3 linked regions of the Homo sapiens genome follow. The protein of the gene in region 3 purifies or fractionates together with the protein of the main gene of each other region. This does not show direct contact. Each region holds a gene or a part of one and is shown on either strand. Other genes may lie near its edges.

Region 1 (5,403 bases), on a different chromosome or scaffold from region 3:
GGGCATCAAGAGTGAGACTCCGTCTCAAAAAAAAAAAAAAGATTTTGCGTCATCTGGCTAGGAGACCCTCTCCCTTATTGTCTTTGAGGAAACAAGCAGCTGTGTTGCAAAGGCCTATGGGGTAAGGAACTGAGGGCGGTCTCCAGCCAACAACCAGAAAGAAACTGAGGCCCTCAGTCCGGCAACTCAAGAACTGAAGGCTGCCAATGACCATGTAATTTGGAGGCAGATCCTTCCCCATTGGAGCCTCAGATGACCCTGTGTCCCCAGCTGACATGTTGATTGCAGCTTGTAAAACTCTGATGTAGGAGACTCAGCTAAGCTATGCTCTGACTCCTGACTCACAGAAACTGTGAAATAATATCTATGTGTTATTTTAAACCATTAAATTTGTGGCAATATTCTTACATAGCAACTGATAAGTAGCAAATTATGTTTAGAGATCCTCTGAGACTGCCCTCAGGTTCAGTGATTCACTAGAAGGACTCACAGAACTCAGCAAAGTGTTGCACTCATAGTTACAGTTTATTACAGTGAAAGGATACAGATTAAAATCAGCAATGAAGAAAGGCACATAAGGTAAGGTCCAAGAGAACTTCCAATTATCCTCTCCTGGCAGAGTCTTCAGGATAATGCTTAATTCTCCCAGCAATGATGTGTGGCTACAATGATGTGTGCACAGAGTATTACCAACCAGAGTAGCTCACCCATGCCTAGGTGTCCAGGGCTTTTACTAGGGATTGATCACATTGGCATGCTTCACTGCCCACATGGCTAACTTAGTCTCCTCAGCTTGACCTTGCAAGGTCAAGCTGATACTGCATGGCCCAAGGCCCACAGGTAAACAAAAACACTCTTATCAGGCAAGATATTCTAATGGCTTAGAGGTTATCTCCCAGGAGCCAGGCAGGGGCCTATTCTTTATTTGGAATGTCCAGGGTTCAAACATCCCAAGTTCATCCTGTATCACACAAAAGGATTAACTTCAAAAGTGGTATTCTTGGCCAGGTGTGGTGGCTCACACCTGTAATCCCAGCACCTTGGGAGGCTGAGGTGGGAGGACTGCTTGAGACCAGGAATTCGACACCAGCCTGGGCAACCTAGTGAGATCCCATCTCTATCGTAATTTTTCTAAAAAGTGGTATTCTTAAGTCAAGTTACTACCCTGATTGATGACAGGGAGAGAGACCAGGAAACCACTGTGTTGTAATCCCTTAGGAAACCTTACACCTTTACTTGCTTTATTATCAGGTAATTTCCAGGATGTAAGCCATACAGCCAGAAGGCAGGGTACAAAGGAGAGGAGGCAGAGATGGTACACTCATACAGAAGCTTCTCCTGATTGTCCACTGAATAGAAGGCAAGCTTTCCCTCCTCAAGGTTCAGCCAGATGCCCACCACCCCAGGTCTGTCTGAGCCAAGGACAGTTTCCTTGACCATGTGCCATGCAGAGAGCTGGCTAGTCCCCTTCCATTCCACACAACAAGAGTCCATAGTCCTTCCCAGGACCTGGTCGCGGCTCATCTCCCAGGAAGCCACCCCAACTGCCCAGTGGCTGCAATTCCTAGTGTCCACTTCCCAGTAATGCTTTCCAGAAGACAGGGCCTGGGAACATAAGACCTGGCTGGTAGAAAACCTCTCACAGCTCCAGCGATAGGGTTGTGGGCGGTGAGACACAGTCACTGTACGGGAATCCTTGGACACCTCCAGGCTGCAGGAAAGGCTCTTCAAGTTAAAGGTTGGATGGATGGCCCCTTTGGAAAAAAAAAAAGAACAATAAGAACATGGCCGGTCATCTTTTGATGGTCCATGCTAAGAAGTCTTCAAATAGCAACTTTGTATCTTTTGGTGTGATGTTTCACTCACACTAGCATTAAAATTGCTACATCACCCAACAGGAAGAAATGATAAATGTTTCAGATGATAGATATGCTAACTACCTTGATCGGATCACTATGCACCATATGTATTGAAACATCACTATGTATCCCATAAATATGTACACTTATTATATTTATTTATTTTTAAAATTTATTTAGAAAAGAAGCAGGATTTTGCCATGCTTCCTAGGCTGGTGTCGAACTCCTGAGCTCCAGCAATCCTGCCATCTCAGCCTCCCAAAGTGCTGCAATTACAGGCATGAGCCACTGCACCCAGACTATACAATTATTATATGTCAATTTTAAAAATCAGGCCAGCTCCTTCAGCCAGGTGCACTGGCTTACCCCTGTAATCCCAGCACTTTGGGAGGCTGAGGCAGGTGGAACACTTGAGGCCAGGAGGTCAAGACCAGCCTGGCCATCATGGCCAACTCCTGTCTCTATTAAACATACCAAAATTAGCTGGGCGTAGGCAAGGTGCGGTGGCTCACGCCCGTCTTATGGTGATTTATGACCACAGCTGTTTATACCTTCCCAGTTAAACTGAAACTTCCTGATTGAGGACCATGTCTTACTCACTTTGTATATTTCATTTGGTTTCCTATTGAGTGAATAAATTGCTAACACTTATACAGCATGACTACTCTAGGTGTTTTACTCATACTCACTCACTTAACCCTCATGGCAATCCCGCAAGAGAAGTACTATATTATCTCCATTTTACAGATGAGGAAACCCAGGCTCTAGGAAGCTTAAGTGACTTGCCCAAGATCACACAGCTAGTTAGTGGAGCTGCTGGGAGTCAAACCCAAGCAGTCTGGCTCTGGGATCCATGCTCTTAAGGACTATCCCAGACTGAGATGGCAGAAATACCTCAGCAGGTTTAGGAAGAGGCAGTTGGCTATAGTTGGTGGCCACAGCACAGATGCAGAAATACCTCAGCAGGTTTGGGAACAGGCAGTTGGCTGTAGTTGGTGGCCACAGCAGAGATGCTCAAAGGTTGGCGGGACTCTGAGTGCTCTTGGGTCTAGAGTCTCAACCTGCTTTGCCTTTGCAATCAGCTCCCCCCGTGGAGGGACCTGGAACAAATCCATGTGCAGTAAGCCAAGGAGTGGCCCTAGCAGTAGGGAGATGGATGTAGGATATTCTCGAAGCCCGCTCTGCGGCAAGCCAAACCCATGTTTAAAGTGGACCACATACTTACACTGAGCAAACCGAGAAGCTCTCCTGAGTGCAGGGTGGCTCTGGTCAGGCAATGGGCATGAGGAGGAAGACGGGGCTTCCAGGAGTTCTCCTAAGTAACAAAAAAATTAACAGAGGAAAGTCCCATCAGAAAAAGGCAAACTGAAGGTCTCCAAACATCATGGTCAAGGCACATGGCTGGCTTGTCTTCTTATCATCTACACATTTTTCAGTGTCAGGACTGGATCAGGCAGAGGCAGTGTGCCTGCAGCCCAGGTATGTGCACCTCCATGTTCTCACTGTGGACTTTTCACTCTTTCTTCACTAAGCTCTCAGCTCCTTGCTAGCAAAGATCTTGTTCATCTATATGTTCTAAGCACCAAGCCCCATGCCAGTCCCATAGATAGAAGGTGTTTTATGCACACTCATGAAATAAAATCAACTAATACAGTTCCAGGGGATTGCAGCACCCTAACACCTAGAATATCCAGGACCCCCAAGTCAATGTTTTAAACTGTTGTTACATAAACTGGGTAACATGAGTTGGGGTGAGATTCATCACCATTGCTGACACCTCCTAATTCCCTCTCGATGTGCTAAAGTTTAATTATTAACTTAAAGCAGTCATGTGTGCTAGAGTGCAATGACCACGTCAGGCAGATGATAAGTAAGGGAAGTCCTAGAGTGCAGACTTTGAAGGCAAAATCTTGTCCTACTTGTATCTTGAAGTGACAGCAGCTGCAGTGAATCTAAGACTCCACCTGAGAAGAGATGAAAGACCTTGTCTAGGGTGTGCCTGTGGTAACTTAGGTCATGAGAGCAAGAGAGCTGCCTGTAAAGAGGCCAGTCTCAAAATTCAACTCGGAACTGAAGCAATCCCTGTGTCCAGAGACAGAAAAATGGATAAAGAAATGTGATATATACATACAATGGAATATTATTTAGCCTTAAAAAGTAACGAATACTGCCTGGGCGCAGTGGTTCACACCTGTAATCCCAGCACTTTGGGAGGCCAAGACAGGCAGATCACAAGGTCAGGAGTTCAAGACCAGCCTGGCCAATATGGTGAAACCCCATCTCTACTAAAAATACAAAAATTAGCTGCGTGTGGTGACACATGGCTGTAATCCCAGCTACTTGGGAAGCTGAGGCAGGAGAATCACTTGAACCTGGGAGGCGGAGTTTGCAGTCAGCCGAGATCGCACCACTGACTCCAGCCTGGGAAACAGAGTGAGACTCCATCTCAAAAAAAAAAAAAAAAAAAAGTAATGAATTCTGCCTGGGCGTGGTGGCTCACGCCTGTAATCCCAATACTTTGGGAGGCTGAGGCGGGCGGATCACCTGAGGTCAGGAGTTCGAGACCTGCCTGGCCAACATGGCGAAACCCCATCTCTACTAAAAAATACACACACACACACACACACACAAAACTAGTCAGGGGTGGTAGCACATGCCTGTAATCCCAGCTACTACTAGGGAGGCAGAGGTGGGAGAATTGCTTGAACCCGGGAGGCAGAGGTTGCGGTGAGCCAAGATCGCACCACTGCACTCCAGCCTGGGTGACAGAGCAAGACTCCGTCTCAAAAAAAAAAAAAGTAACAAATTCTGATATATGCTACAACATAGGTGAGCTTGGAGGACATTATGCTAAGTGAAATAAACCTCTCACACACTAATACTGTATGATTCCACTCACATGAGGTATCTAGAATAGTCAAATTCATAGAACAGAAAGTGGAATAGTGGTTGCCAGGTAGGAGGGGGTTGAAGGAATGTGGAATTGTTGCTTAATGGGTATAGAGTTTCAATTCTGCAACATGAAACCAGGCATGGTGGCCCATGCTTATAGTCCCAGCTAGTTAGGAGGCTGAGGCAGCAGGCTCACTTGAGGCCAGGAGGAGTTCCAGACCAGCCTGGGCAACATAATGAGACCCTGTCTCTACAAAACAATTCTTTTTTTTTTTTTGAGACTGAGTCTCGCTCTGTCGCCCAGGCTGGAGTGCGATGGCGCAATCTCAGCTCACTGCAAGCTCCACCTCCCGGGTTCACGCCATTCTCCTGCCTCAGCCTCCTGAGTAGCTGGGACTACAGGCGCCCACCACCACACCCAGCTAATTTTTTTGTATTTTTAGTAGAGACGGGGTTTCACCGTGTTAGCCAGGATGATCTCGATCTCCTGACCTAGTGATCCACCCGCCTCGGCCTCCCAAAGTGCTATGATTACAGGCGTAAGCCACTGTCCCGGCCAAAACAATTCTTTAAATAGCTGAGCATGGTGGTGTGGGCCTATAGTCCTGGCTACTGGGGAGGCTGAAGCAGGAGGATTGAGGTTACAGTGAGC
Region 2 (7,030 bases), on a different chromosome or scaffold from region 3:
CTTGAATAAATCCAAGAAATGTCTGGCAGAGTGGATGGCAGGGAACAATGTCTGGGGTCAGTGATTCCAGAGTTTTTGTGCCAGAGAGTTTCTATGGGGTCTGTTTTTCATCATGGGGAAGACAAAGTTGGGTCACAGATTATTGTTAAGACTTGTCCAAGTTTGAGAAAATGAGAGTGGCCCAGGAAAAGAATCTTCCTCGCATCTCCTTCTGAGGATGCTGGCAAAATGCGCATCTGATATAATCAACCTTCCAGACAAGGATTCTGATAGGAAACCGAGCCCTGGGGATGAGGGCTCACAGACCCAGTGCCGACCCACGGTAACCATGAACCTCTAAAATTCTACAAGCAAGACTGCGTACTTTTGACAGATGGCTTTCAAAACATTCTTTCCCTTTAAGATTCTTAATTATGGCCCCAGCGAACACAGGTTCTAATTGAGGCGCACCTGAGCCTGGCTTGCAGGAGAGATACCTATCAAAGGGAAAGGCTGATTTCTTTTGAGGGCATTGTTTTGCAGCATTTCCTGGACTTACCAGTCCTAGGCTTCTGTTCCATGAATAATTCGGTCCAGTCCTTTGCCTCAATAAGATTCTGGAGCAGAATCAGTCAAATGGTCTTATGTTTTCAGGAGAATGCACTGTTAAAAGAAACAGCCATATTATTTACATTTCCAGAAATGGCTCTTCTGATGATTATCCATAGCCCATCAAAATTAACTGCATATTCTGCATAAAAGACCTTTAAGATATTTAATATGTAAAGTTTCTTTCTGTAAACACTTACTGGGTTTTGACAGCAACTTGTAAAGACCAAGGTAAGAGGTAATAAAACTACAGCAATGGTTTACAAATGGAGGTTTTGAAGGCTGATTAGAGGGAGATGAATTCCAGCTGGAAAACTTTTTGATAATGTCAACAGCTTTCGAGAGCCTCTGAGCAGTGAATGAGATGATACAGGTGAAAGCAGCTAGCGCCATACCTGGCCCAGGACAGGCAGGAAAAATGTCAGGCAGATCTGAAGCTGAATCCGGTTACTGAGTCATCACCCATCAGGGAATCAGAAATCCTTTGATTCAAACAGTTGGGACACAAATTGTTGGGGCATGCGTGACACATGGATTGAATTGAATGCCAGGTAACGGGGGTCAAAGCCCTGATTGTCCAAGTTGGACGTGTCAGCTGGGTTGACACGGGCGTGGCGGAATCCCATGGAACTTGGTGAATTACATCATCGGACGGTTCGCAGTAGACAGGCCTTCTTGAATGCAGTTCTCGACCTCGACTGCACACTGGAGTCTAAGATGAACACTGCTGTCTGGGCCCACCCATGGGGATTCTGATGTGAGGGTTCTGTGGTGCTGCCCAGTTTTGGGCCTTTGAACTGCTCCCCAGGTGATTCTAATGTGCCACCAAGGTTGACAGTCAGCTAATTCCGATTTAACCATCTCCAGTGTTACCAGTGTTTATAATCTAGAAGTTACATCTAGAAGGTCTGTAGCAAACACTGTAGGTTGTCCACCCGATAGCCATTCTGATTTCCTTTCTGATGGAACCCTGGTATTGTTCTCTTATGTCTCCACCTCTGAGGGTCCGGAAACTATCAGCAGAACCGTTACACCAGGCTCAGGTGGTCTCATGAATGGGTTAAGCTGGGATTCCTCAACCTCAGCACTGTTGACACTTGGGGCTGTGCCACTCTTTGGGGTGAGGGTTGTCCTGTGCATGGTAGGGTGTTGACGCAGCATCCCTGGTTTCTACACTCTTGATGCCAGTAACACCCCCAACCTGAGTTGTGACAACAAAAAAACAAGAACCACATGGCTCAACCTATCATGCGGGTCCTGTTTGCCAGGATCATTTTAGGCACAGGAGTGGGGTGGAAACACCTTCAAAGAAACATTTTCTTCACTCTTAGGAGACAAAAGGGAAGAAGAAAGGCATTCTCTGACCGGATGCACCCAGGTGGAACAAATCTGGGGTTGGGTCTTTTTATTTTTTATTTATTTTTTTGTTTTTTATTTTTTGAGATGGAGTCTCGCTCTGTTACCCAGGCTGGAGTGCAGTGGCACGATCTCGGCTCACTGCAACTTCCACCTCCTGAGTTCAAGCGATCCTCCTCCCTCAGCCTCCCGAGCAACTGGGATTACAAGCGCCCACCACCACGCCTGGCTAATTTTTGTATTTTTAGTAGAGACGGGGGTTTCGCCATGTTGGCCAGGCTGGTTTAGAACTCCTGACCTCAGGTGATCCACCCACCTCGGCCTCCCAAAGTGCTGGGATTACAGGCATGAGCCACTGCGCCCGGCCGGGTCTTGCTCTTAGTTTTACTGAGGTGCAGAATTTACTCGCCCCAGAGCTGCCCTCCCTTGGGACTTCTTGCCATGTGAAATAATACATCCCACCATTGTTAAAAGGGCTGATTTTTGCTATTGGTAGCTAAACGCTTCTAAGCTGCTGGATCCTGAATCCAGACTATTCTTAATTATTGGGAAGCAATACTGTTCTCTTTTGGAAGGTGGACATTTTGCAAGACCAACGTGACTAAATGGTCAAATTCTGTTTTCTACGGTAGAGACACAGAATTTGACCATTATTAGATCATTATTGCGAAGATTATTATTGTGAAGCAGGACAGTCAAGAGTGTTCTTATGAGGCAGGGCAGCATCTACACGATAGGTATGTAGTTCATGTATGTGGTGTCTACATATGCTTTGGTAAAATGAAGCTCTGTTGATGAGACAGCCACATATTACATTTCATCATTCTCAGGGATCCCACAGAGGCTGATGTTGTACAGCTTTCAGGATCACTCGAACCCTAGGCAGCGGTCTGAGGAGCTTCCAGCCACCTCTTAGTGAGAGCCTCAGGTGTGAGGACCAAGCGTTAGGATCCGCCCTTTTTTTTTTTTTTTGAGACAGGGTCTTGCTCTGTCACCCCGGCTGGAGTGGAGTCGTCCGATCACAGCTCACTGCAACCTCGACTTCCTGGGCTCAAATGATCCTCCCACCTCAGCCTCCTGAGTAGCTGGGAGCACAGATGTGTGCCACCACACTCTGGGCTAATTTTTCTACTTTTTTGTAGAGATGGAGTCTCAGTATATTGCCCAGGCTGGCCTTTTTTTCTTTTTTAAAATACTGTCATCCTGACTTGTTGAAACAAACCCTTTTCCTATTTCCATATTAATTTGTAGGGTTGATAAGTGCAATGTTCAATCACAATTCCTCTGGTTTTGTTTTTGGGCAGTGACTTGCATCTCCCCTCCCTCATTTTCATTCATTGAAAAGTTCTCAAGTGGCTGCAGCTAAAATCAGACACTTAAAATTAATGCAAGATTAAGATTCCAGGTGATGGCTTCTTCATGAGTCCATTTAAAAGTCTTCGTTGCAATAAAAAAAAAACACCACAAAACAAAAAACAGTGAAATCCAATAGGATGGTAAGCTAATAGGTCACGGAGTGGCGGGGGGGTGTCTTTTTATCCCCCGGGTTGGGCCTCAAGCAATAATTTTTGTGGGAGACAGGACAGGTATAGGCATGGAAAACCAATGTGAAAACCTGTGGTTCATATTCCCCGTGGTTGTGCTCTGGGCAAATGTTTGAGGAATGTCATTTGTTTCTGTTGTTGTTCTCAACTGATTTAGGAGAAAAAAGGCACTGATCCAGGAGCACACATTTTCTACCAGCTCTGAATAGTTTAAATTCCAAATAAAAACTCACATCCAGTGTGTTTATTACTTAATTTTAGGTCATGTTTAATTGAAAACACTCCATCAGCCTTTTGAAAGTAAATTTTGAGATCCAGCCAGTGGGGCTGATGATTTCCAGACAGCCTGGACAGCTGAGATTCGGAGCTCAGCTCACACGAAGAGGCAGACGATCAGCTGTGTTCGTGAGCAGTGCAGGTGTGCAGCTGTGAGACGGTCAGCTGTGCTCGTGAGCGGTGCAGGTGTGCAGCTGTGAGACGGTCAGCTGTGTTTGTGAGCGGTGCAGGTGTGCAGCTGTGAGGACATTCCAGGGTCATCATTACCAGCTGTGACCTTGTGCCCCTGACTCCCCGTCTTGGGTTCCTTTTCTTTAAATATGACTCATCAAATGAAAACCTCTCAGTGTTGTTGTGAGGATTAAGCCAAACAGTGCAAACAAAAGGCTTAGCACAGTACAGCGGTTTACAGTCAATGCTTTCAATGGCGCTAGCTGTGAACATTTGGTAACTGTAACCAGTTAACTTTCAGGGCTAGATATGACAACACATCCTGCAAATTCCTCCATTTTAATCTAATCAAAATATATAATGTGCAAAATACAAAATAAAAGAGGAACACAGTGTCTGCTTGGGAAGGCTTCCATTTACAAACAGCATGTTGAAAAAGTTCACTTTTGTTTGGAGGACTCTATGTTCCCATAGCAACAGTGCTCTAAGTGTGTGTGTGTGGGGCTTAAATTCCAAGGACTCACAAGGGCAAATTAACTCTTAGTTACGTGAAATATTGTGTTAGTCCTGATAGGGTTAAACAATGACTGTACTTGTAGTGAAACAAAGAAAAAATTGATATGAAAATAAGATTGAAATATTTTAAAATCCTGTGGCTCAAAGGAAAGCAGGATGAACTAGGGGCCAAATGAAGAAGCTGTGGGGCCTTGGGGTTTGAGACAGGGCACTTAATTAAATGTAACGCTGTTTTCCTTGGTGCGAGGGCCCCCATACTCATCTGTATTGTTCAGCCCTCAAGAGAATCTTCACTGGCTGGTAAACGAACAAGAATAGCTGGAGAAGGAATACTTCATATAGTATAAAAAAGACCCTTGGACAGGCATGGTGGCTCCAGCCTGTAATCCCAGCACTTTGGGAGGCTGAGACAGGACTGCTTGAGCCTAGGAGTTCTAGACCAGCCTGGGCAACACAGCAAGACCCAGGTGCGGTGGCACGAACCTGTAATATTAGCTACTTGGGAGGCTGAGGCAGGAGGACTGCCTGAGCCCAGGAGCTTCAGGCTCCAAGTGAGCTATGACTGTGCCACTGCACTCCAGCCTGGGCAACAGAGCGAGACCTCGAAAACTAGCAGGTGAGCAGGTTAAAGCTGAGTTCTCTGCTCTACTTTCAGAGTCTTTAATATGCTAATTTCTTCATGAGGTTCACAGAATGTCGTCTAAACCCAAGTGACCATAACCCCTTCCTTCCTGCAGCATCTCCAGGGGCAAGAGTTCTGGGAACACACCTGAGACAAGTCTCCTGCAATGCCAGTCTTGGCAAGCCCTCCTCCCGCTCCTCAGCTTCCCCTTCCAGCAGGCAACCTCCCCCAACACCCCCTCTCCTGCTTTGCCTTGGGCTACTTGTACTTAATCCGTCCAGAGGTTTTAGTTGATACTCTAATGTGATTTCTGCATTTCCATCTGAAAACCAAACAGATTTTTGACACAAAGGAAGCTTCATAGCAGGATTTCAGGCACCTTTATTCATGGCAGATATTTTTGGTCAGGGCAGCCTGCCTTTGAAATCGTTCCATTACTTGAGGAGGTCGACTCCTGCCTAAGTCACAACTCTCCTACAACCGCAACCGGCCATATCATTTCCATTTGCCACTTCCGAGGCTTGAGAACATCACCAGGGACGCAGGTTTCGGATGGTCTGGTCAATGCTGCAGTGTGTGTGGGGCATTCGGGGGCTCCAGCCTGCATCACAACCTACTGGCCTGATCAAAGGAGGTTCTGTAGTTGGGTAACCAGAGTGGTGAATTCATTTTATCACAGAAGGATCTCACTCCTTTATGTTCCCCATGTAATTTGTATACAGCACAAATTATTTCTTACTTTGATAGATTTGCAATATAAACACCAAGACTGGTGAGATGAGAAACTTAAAAAAATCATGTTTTTCAAATTTTCAAGTTTTTGTGTAAAAGCACTTTGTGGTGACAATCATATGGATCACCTTCCAGGTCATCAGTATTGGCCTCTAGGTTTAGCACTCCTGGCACTGCATTTTTGAGTGGCCAGAGATAAAGGTATTATCCCTGTCTTCTATAATCAATGATAACATTGACACTCTGCAAGAATTTAGATAAGAAACAGTTTAAGTAAAATAGTGTTTTTTAAAAACTTGAGTCTACTACAAGTCGTTGATCATATTCTAGCCAAGCAACTGGCATGGACTTAATATGGTCTCTTTTCCTTCTCTCTTTCTTTTCAAGTCACTAGCTCAAAGGAAAGACTGATTGAGTTTTAAAATCCTGCCAGATTTTTTATGGTAACCATTGTAGATGAACCACGTAGGTAGGGTCCTACTGAAGTATTAGAATCTCATGCAAAACTCTAACAAACGCCTCATTACAGAAGGCTATTCTGTTATTTTCTGTACTGTAAAAGTTCTGACACAAGACAGTGGCAGTGGTTACTTTTCATCGACTTTAGCATGTGATCTCAGGGACTCAGACATACGTCTAAGTTCTATTCTGAGTTTTGGCAACAGAGCAGTGACAGATATTTCTGAATGAACAATTTTTAGGTGTTTTCAGCCATTTGAAAAGTATTGCCAACACACTATTTGGTGTTAGCTCAACAGTCACGTTGTGCCAAGAATTAAAGAACTCTAAAGTCTACAAACATCTTACTTCACCAAGACTAACTATAATTGAAGGGTTTACTATTTGTTTAATAAAAAATCACACATCAACTTTTATCCAAACAGCAACTACTACAAAAGGAATGACAAGAAAAAAAATGACTTCACAGAAATACACTAAAAAATCTGACAATGTTATGCAAGAACCGCCAAAGTTTTAGTGTTTAATAATGAATAGCACAACTGACCAAGGTCCAAGATGTGAAGATACCATGTTCAAGAAACTGGGGGGAAATCACTCTACAAACTAACTATATACTAGGTGATAAGAATGCATACTTTATAATATAAAACCTGTCTACACATAGTAGTTAGCTGCAAAAAGCCATTCGATCTTCTCTTGGCTTGGAAAAATGCCAGATTCCAGTATAAATTATTAGCAACCTGTTGAAGAAGGAAAAATCATC
Region 3 (7,417 bases):
TCCTTTCTACACCAGCACCTCCATCATGCTCTTTTTCTTGTAATACTTGAATCTTTTTCATAGCCCTTATCATTACTGACATTATATTACATATCCATTTGTTGCATTTTATTTGTGCATGAAAGTAGACTTTGTTCTTCTTGACTGTTGTATCCCCAGTGTCTAAGGCCTGGCACATTGGCAGGGGCTCAATAAATCTGTTGAATGACTAAAATGTAACAATGGTGTCCATTCTTCTCTCCCTAGCTCAGAGTGCCTGAAGTTCAAGTACAGCCCTGCCTATGCCCATGAAGCCTCCAGAGGTCCCCTAAGAGCTCTAAGCAGCTTTCAAATTTTTTTGACCTCATAAAGAAGTACATTCATTCTCCACGGTGCATATGTACGTATATATAGGCCAAAGACAAAATTACAACAAATGTAGTTGAGTGATCTTATTGGCTTTTATTAGCACTTCTAGAATCAGGCAACACCTAATTCTATAAAACAGAATGTTCCAATGAGCTGAACAGAGGACATGGGCTTTATAGGTAGAAAAGAGCTGGAAAAAAAAAGAGGATTACTCATTTCAAAGTTACTTTCCTTTTAGGGTTAAAACAGAGAGGACTTCCTTATCATGCCAGCTAATTCTGTACTGTTTGGGGATTTTAATATGCTCTCTCTTTCTCTTTTTCTCTCCCAATTTCTTGGAAGTTCAGATAAACTACTTAGTTTTGGTTTGGTGAAGTGGCAGTTTAGCATGAGTAACTCCATTTTGTTTTGGTTTGGTATGGTGGGGCCTAGTGTGGAAGCCCAGTCCAAAACAACGACCTTCCATCCATTTTGTTTACCTATATATATGTAATTGAAACAACAAAAACCTTACTAAGAGCATGTTTTCTGTTCTTTATTCTTTTCTTTTTTTCTCTTTTGGAGACAGAGCCTCACTCTGTCACCCACCACCCAGGCTGGAGTGCAGTGGTATAGTCTCTGCTCACTGCAACTTCTGCCTCCCGGGTTCAAGTGATTCTTCTGCCTCAGCCTCCCAAGTAGCTGGGACTACAGGCATGTGCCATCACGCCTGGTTAGTTTTTGTATCTTTAGTAGAGACGGAGTTTCACCATGTTGGCCAAGCTGGTCTCGAACTCCTGACCTCAGGTGATCCACCTTCCTCAGCCTCCCAAAATGCTGAGATTACAGGCGTGAGCCATTGTGCCCAGCCTTTTCTTTCTTTTTATAAAAGATGCTGATCTCCACCCCTTGAATTTCTTGATATGCCACCTAATAAAGGGTTGCCACTGCCTTAGGGCAGTGTTTCTAGAAACAGTCAAGGGGCTCCTTTGCATCCTAGTCAAGGAGTGACTGCCACAGATGCAGCTTCTTGGCTTCATCCCAGACTTAATGGATGAAAATCTTACCGGAAAGTCTGCGTGTTTTACAACTCCTCCTCTTTCCCCTCCTGACCATCCCCTGTCCTCCAACGATTCCGAAGCCTGATAAAGCTTAAGAGCTATAACCGGGGAGTTTATGAGTATCCCAGATGTGTCCTGCAGGGCTTGATGAACAGATAGGGAAAGGGCGATTCTCCAGTTCCAGTCCAACTTGGCTCATAAGTGGTGAAACAGAGGAACCCGACTTGATAAAAGTAAATCTACTCCTACCTTAGCCCTTTGCATTTGCTGATGCCACTACCTGAAAGTAATTCTGGTGATTTAGGGGCTGTTTTCCAGATCCTGGACCTGGTAGGGCCAATGACTGCTCTAGGGCCACACCCAGTGAAGGCCCCCCTCCCCCCCCCCCACCTTTCCCTAAGGATTTTAACCCTTGTTCCTCCCCCTGCCCTCCACAACCTCTTTTCTTTCTTTTCTTTTCTTTTCTTTCTTTCTTTCTTTTTTTTTTTTTTTGAAACAGAGTGTTGCTCTGTTGTCCAGGCTGGAGTGCAGTGGCGCGATCTCAGCTCACTGCAACCTCCACCTCCTGGGTTCAAGCGATTCTCATGCCTCAGCCTCCCCAGCAGCTAGGATTACAGGTGTGCACCACCATGCCCGGCTAATTTTTGTGCTTTTAGTAGAGACGGGGTTTCACCATGATGGCCAGACTGGTCTCGAACTCCTCAAGTGATCCGCCTGCCTCAGCCTTCCAAAGTGCTGGGATTACAGGCATGAGCCACTGCTCCTGGCCACACAACCTCTTTTCTTTTTAGCCTTCACACAAAAAGCACCTCCTATTTTCTTTGTTTTCACCATAGGGTTTAATAATTCCCCATCCCCAGTCCTTAGAAGGAAAAAATTCTAACCACAATCTCTAATTACCATGGCCTATTTCCCTCCCCACCCCCAGAGGAGTGTAGATGCTGTTATGAGGCCATCACCCTCCCACTGGGATGCACTGGAAACTTCTTTAGATGCCAGGAAAGCAGCACCCCTGTCGCCAAAGAACCTCACACAATTTACATTCTGAAACCTGCTACAACTGTATTTACAGATCCTCACACATATAATAAAACCTTTTATTATCCCCTACTGTATATCAGACACCCAAAGTAAATACTTTGTAGACAAGATCTCATTTCATTCTTGAAGTAGCCCTCTAAGGTAGATGATAGTATTATTATCACCTCTGTTGTAGAGATAAGAAAACAGACACAGAAGCTGTGAGTAACCTGACCAAGATCCCATAGCTGTAAGCTGCATAGCTGGGATGAAACCAATGACTATATTTCACTCAGTGTTCTCTCTAATCATATGGTGTAATATTGTCTATCTGGGGTGACAATGTGTCCCCATTGGATGATGACACCACTGTGTACCGCTCTGGGTAGCTCTGGGGCTGTTAGCTGCCCTTACCCCTCAGGTGCTAAAGCAGTAGTGGCTGAGAAGGAAAGGGTTCTATCTCCTTTGTGTGGCCATTGCTTAGAGAAGCTTCAGAGTAGAGGTGCTAGAGCCCCTGTGAGCTATGGGATGTAATGTTTCTCTTTCGGTTTAGCTCCCGCCTGTGTTCAGTTCTGATGCACTCAGAGTACTCTCTGACACCTGAAGGCCTGGGCCCTTCCCCTTTTGAGAGAGTGCCCAGCTTTCTGCCAAGACTCCTAAGAAAGAATTTGGGGTTGGTGGCCGGGCGCGGTGGCTCACACCTGTAATCCCAGCACTTTGGGAGGCTGAAGGGGGGAGATGGCTTGAGCCCAGGAGTTTGAGATCAGCCTGGGCAACATGGCAAAACCCTGTCTCTACGAAAAATACAAAACTTAGCTGGGCACGGTGGCATGTGCCTGTAGTCCCAGCTACTCAGGAGGCTGAGGTGGGAGGATCACTTGAGCTGGGGAGGTCGAGGCTGCAGTGAGCTATGATTACACCACTGCACTCCAGCCAGGGTGACACAGTGAGACCCTATCTCAAAAAAATAAAAAAAAATAAAAAAAAAAAAGAAGAAGAAGAATTTAGAGCTGGAGAGCAGCGTTCTCCTTGTATGCCCAGACAGACTAGACTGGATCCCCAGCAGAGGGCTCAATCTGGGCTCAGACTAATATATAAGATCCTGAGGGTGGGAAAAGCCCTAAACAGCTCAGGAACATGTTAGCAGTTTTTCTTTCTGGGGTGGGAGTGGGTGGATTTTTCTTCCACATGCTTATTTGCATATTTTGTTTTCTTCGAAATAAAAAGGCATTACTTTTTTTCAATGCTAGTTTAAAAAGAAAACTCAAATATTCAAATTCAAAAAGTTTGGATGTAAATACTTTGGGAAAATCAGCCTAATACAGATATTTCTCACTGGGCCTCAATGTTCAATTTAAAAAATTATTAATTATAGTAACCTTAAGTCACACTGCCTAGGTTCCAATCTCATAGCTACCAATTAGTAACTGTGACCCTTGGCAAGCCACTTAACTTCCATAAAAATGGGATCCTAATAGTACTTTCCTCGCACTGTTAGTAGACACTTAGCGATTGCAGCTGCTATGTTCCAGATATTGTTTTACGTATTTAGCGTATTTACTCCTCAGACGTCTGGGAGGCAGGTACTCTCACCCCATTTTACAGCTGGAGTTCCCACCCAGTGAGCAGCCAAACGGGATTTGAACCAGGCAGTTTCTCAGCAGAGCCTTGCTTGAAGCTAGGCATCTAAAGCTGCCTCTCAAAAAGGGCAGTGGTCGGGATTACATAACAGAACGCTTGCAAAGCTCTCAGCGAAAGCCTGGCACTTAATAAGTGCTCAATAAAGTTTCCTACGGTCACAGTAATATTTGGAGTTTTATGTTTGTTGTAGAACAAATACGCATACAATCGCGATTTCATTCAACAAGGAATTTAAAGAGACCTGCTGCCCCGGGCGGGATGGGAGCGCGGGTTGGGTGGGAGGAGGCGCAGCTGCGGGGCGCGCTGGCGCACCGGGAGGGCCGGGGGCGGGGTCAGCCAGGCCCCGCCCGCCGCCACCTGCGACAGGTGGAGCGCACGGGGCGGGCGCACGGCCATGTCCGCCGAGGGCGCGGAGCCGGGGCCGGGGTCCGGGTCCGGGCCCGGGCCGGGGCCACTCTGCCCCGAACACGGCCAGGCTCTGAGCTGGTTCTGCGGCTCCGAGCGACGGCCCGTGTGCGCCGCCTGCGCGGGGTTGGGCGGTCGCTGCCGGGGGCACCGCATCCGCCGGGCGGAGGAGCGCGCCGAGGAGCTGCGGGTGAGCGGGTGTGGGCGCCGGAAGGCGAGGGCTCCGGAGACCCCGGGCGCGCCTGGCGGGACCCGGCAGGGACTGGGGAGCCTGGGGCTGGGCGGACTCGACACCCGGCCCCGGAGCCTAGGCTCCTCGGTGGCTTTGGCTGTAGGACTAGGCGGTTAAGGGTGTGGCCTCTGAAGTCAGGCTGGCCTGAGTTCGAATCTACTCCCTGTGAGTCACGTAACTCTGAGCCTCAGTGTCTTCATCTGTAGTTTGGGGACAACAACAATAATAATAGCGCGTATTTATTAGAGTTGTGAGAAATAAATAAGATAGTGGGTAAAATGCTTAGCGATAAGGGGATCCAGGCTCCCCAGGCCCCTTCCATTGCTCTGTTGAGGAAGCTGGGGCTGGCATGAAAGGCTCAGCTGCTCCAGTTCTCAGCGCAGGGTGTGCCCCAGCTCCCGCCCCTGTGGAAACTGACACTGATAAAATCCAGCGCGACCGTATCCCTTAACCCCTGGACTCAAAGCCCCCCTCCTCCTTTCGCCTCTTCCCCCTGCTCCTAACCCCTTCTGGCTTCTGGTGCGGTGATCTCTTTTTCGCTTTCAGGATTGGCCTTGACTGTACTTCAGGCTGGTTTAAGGGCTTCAGCTGGATAAACGGTGGGGGTAGGGAGAATATCAGGGGATTCCCCTTCACCCAGGCTTTCTCGCCACCTCCACTTCCAGCTCGGCTCCAGGGTGGCCACCTCCTTGTCATCACCATTCTCCTGAGCTGCTGAGATTGGGAGAGTCGAAGTCACCTTGGGCTTCTCTGTGGCCCCTGGGGATTTCCTTGCAATTTGATTAAACAGCTTGTTTCTCCCAACCCGACTCTGCAGTTCACCCCTGCTGTGAAGCCTGAGGGCTCTGGCTGGGGACTTCGCCTACCCAGAGTGACCTGTAATAAACACATCTTATATAGGGTGCTGGGCTCGGGAGGGGTTCAGTTTTTCAGCAACACCCAAAAGCTCCTGGTTCGTCCTACCTGTTACCTCTATCAACAATAATGATGACAAAAATAAACCTGGATAACGCGGTGTAATCAACTTGCATAATGGACAAAAAAATTTGCAAACTCCAAAGTACTTAAATGTCTGTCATCTCATTCTGTCTTGACCACGCCTTTGAAGGGGTCCTACCTACATTTTACAGATGAGGCACTGGAGGCTCGGAACAAGGCAGTAACTCCTCCAAGCTTCCTAATGTTCAGGGGTGGGACCCAGGGAGTCATTGACTAGGCAAGAGGAAACTGCTGCTTTGCTTCGGCGGTTGGAGGGAGGAAGTGATGCTAATGGGGGTGAGAATGTCATGGAAACCTTAAAAGTAGCTATCAGGACTGGATTTGAGTGGTGGAAAGAGTGAAGCCTCGGGCAGGTGGCAGGCCTGGTGCTAGTTTCGGTACTACCCTAGGGAACCTTCTTTGAACCCCTCTGAGGCCGTATGCATATTTATCTCCTTTGCCTGAAGGGAGGTGGGTCTTACCCTCTCTTCCACCAAATTAGAGTAGATTTCTGTCTTTTGCACATTCCTTCCTCTATCCATCCAGTCAGCAAATAAATCTCACCCTAGGGCAAGATTATTACCAAAACCAGCACCAGTTCTACTGCTCTCCTACCTCTGGATTCCTGCCCTGTGGTTTTTCAGAAGCCTTCTCAGTGCTCTTAGTCCATGGTGCATGGTGATCACAGCTTCCTCCTAGTCAACTCAATTCTGTAACTTTGTATTTGGACCTATGAAATGTAACTAATTTCTACTTCTGGGTGGAAAGATTTACAAGGGCTTCCTGGAAGAGGTAGCTAAGTTGCCTTTTGGCAGATGGAACTGAGGCAGAACTCTTAGGGGGAACAGTGGAGGGACTGCTGCTTGGATAGGCTCTAGGTATCACCTGGAGAAACGGAGAGCAAAAGCAGGGCCCTGGCCCATACCTTCTTGGGGAAGTCACTTCTCTTTGGGCCTCAGCTTTCCCGTTTCTTTCTCTTTCCTTTTTTTTTAAAATTTATTTACTTATATTTATTTATTTTTGAGACAGTCTCACTCTGTCACCCAGGCTGGAGTGTGGAGTGCAGTGGTGCTATTTCAGCTCACTGCAACCTCTGCTTCCTAGATTCAAGAGATTCTCCCACCTCAGCCTCCCGAGTAGCTGGGACTACAGGCGCATGCCACTACGCCTGGCTAATTTTTGTATTTTTTGGTAGAGATGGGGTTTCACCACGTTGGCCAGGCTGGTCTCGAACTCCTGATCTCAGGTGATCCGCCCACCTCAGCCTCCCAAAGTGTTGGGATTACAGGTGTGAGCCACCGTGCCCGGCCAGCTTTCCCATTTCTAAAACTCCCCTGAGCTCATGGATGATGCTCATAGCTTTGAGAGCCATGAACTGCTGAACCTCTTGTGGTCAAGGCAGTGGGTGTTCGTTCATTCAACAAATATTTATTCAGGGCCTTCTATGTTCAGAAACTCTCTTTGAGGTACTAGGACATAGAGAAGTCAGACTTATGGTGCTTCTGTTCCAGTGGTGGGGGAGACAGATACCCAAAAAGGTAAACAAACACATAATATATAGTCAGAGAGTTATAAGTGCAAGGGAGAAAAATAAAGCAAAGTAAGAGATTGGGTGAGGAGGGAGATGGTCAGGGAAGACCTCTCTGAAGAGATGACATCTGAATGCAGTTGGGGAGTGAGACACACACACACACACACACACAGACTGGTGGAAACGGAACTGCAGGTGCAAAGGCACTGAAGTCAGGACAAG

What was found.
Region 1: the proteins of BSPRY (region 3) and RNF135 purify together in Homo sapiens (affinity purification with mass spectrometry; 2 studies listed by BioGRID and IntAct, with this or other methods). This does not show direct contact.
Region 2: the proteins of BSPRY (region 3) and HSBP1 purify together in Homo sapiens (affinity purification with mass spectrometry; 2 studies listed by BioGRID and IntAct, with this or other methods). This does not show direct contact.

The regions. Positions count from the first base shown.
Region 1 is NC_000017.11:30,995,013-31,000,415, reverse strand, and holds the end of RNF135 (E3 ubiquitin-protein ligase RNF135), read right to left. Parts: intron 3,175-5,403; coding exon 3,085-3,174; intron 1,755-3,084; coding exon 1,225-1,754; 3' UTR 505-1,224; downstream 1-504.
Region 2 is NC_000016.10:83,811,398-83,818,427, reverse strand, and holds part of HSBP1 (heat shock factor-binding protein 1), read right to left. Parts: intron 7,008-7,030; 3' UTR 1-7,007. UniProt on the Homo sapiens protein: Negative regulator of the heat shock response. Negatively affects HSF1 DNA-binding activity. May have a role in the suppression of the activation of the stress response during the aging process.
Region 3 is NC_000009.12:113,345,137-113,352,553, forward strand, and holds the start of BSPRY (B box and SPRY domain-containing protein), read left to right. Parts: upstream 1-4,404; 5' UTR 4,405-4,443; coding exon 4,444-4,644; intron 4,645-7,417. UniProt on the Homo sapiens protein: May regulate epithelial calcium transport by inhibiting TRPV5 activity.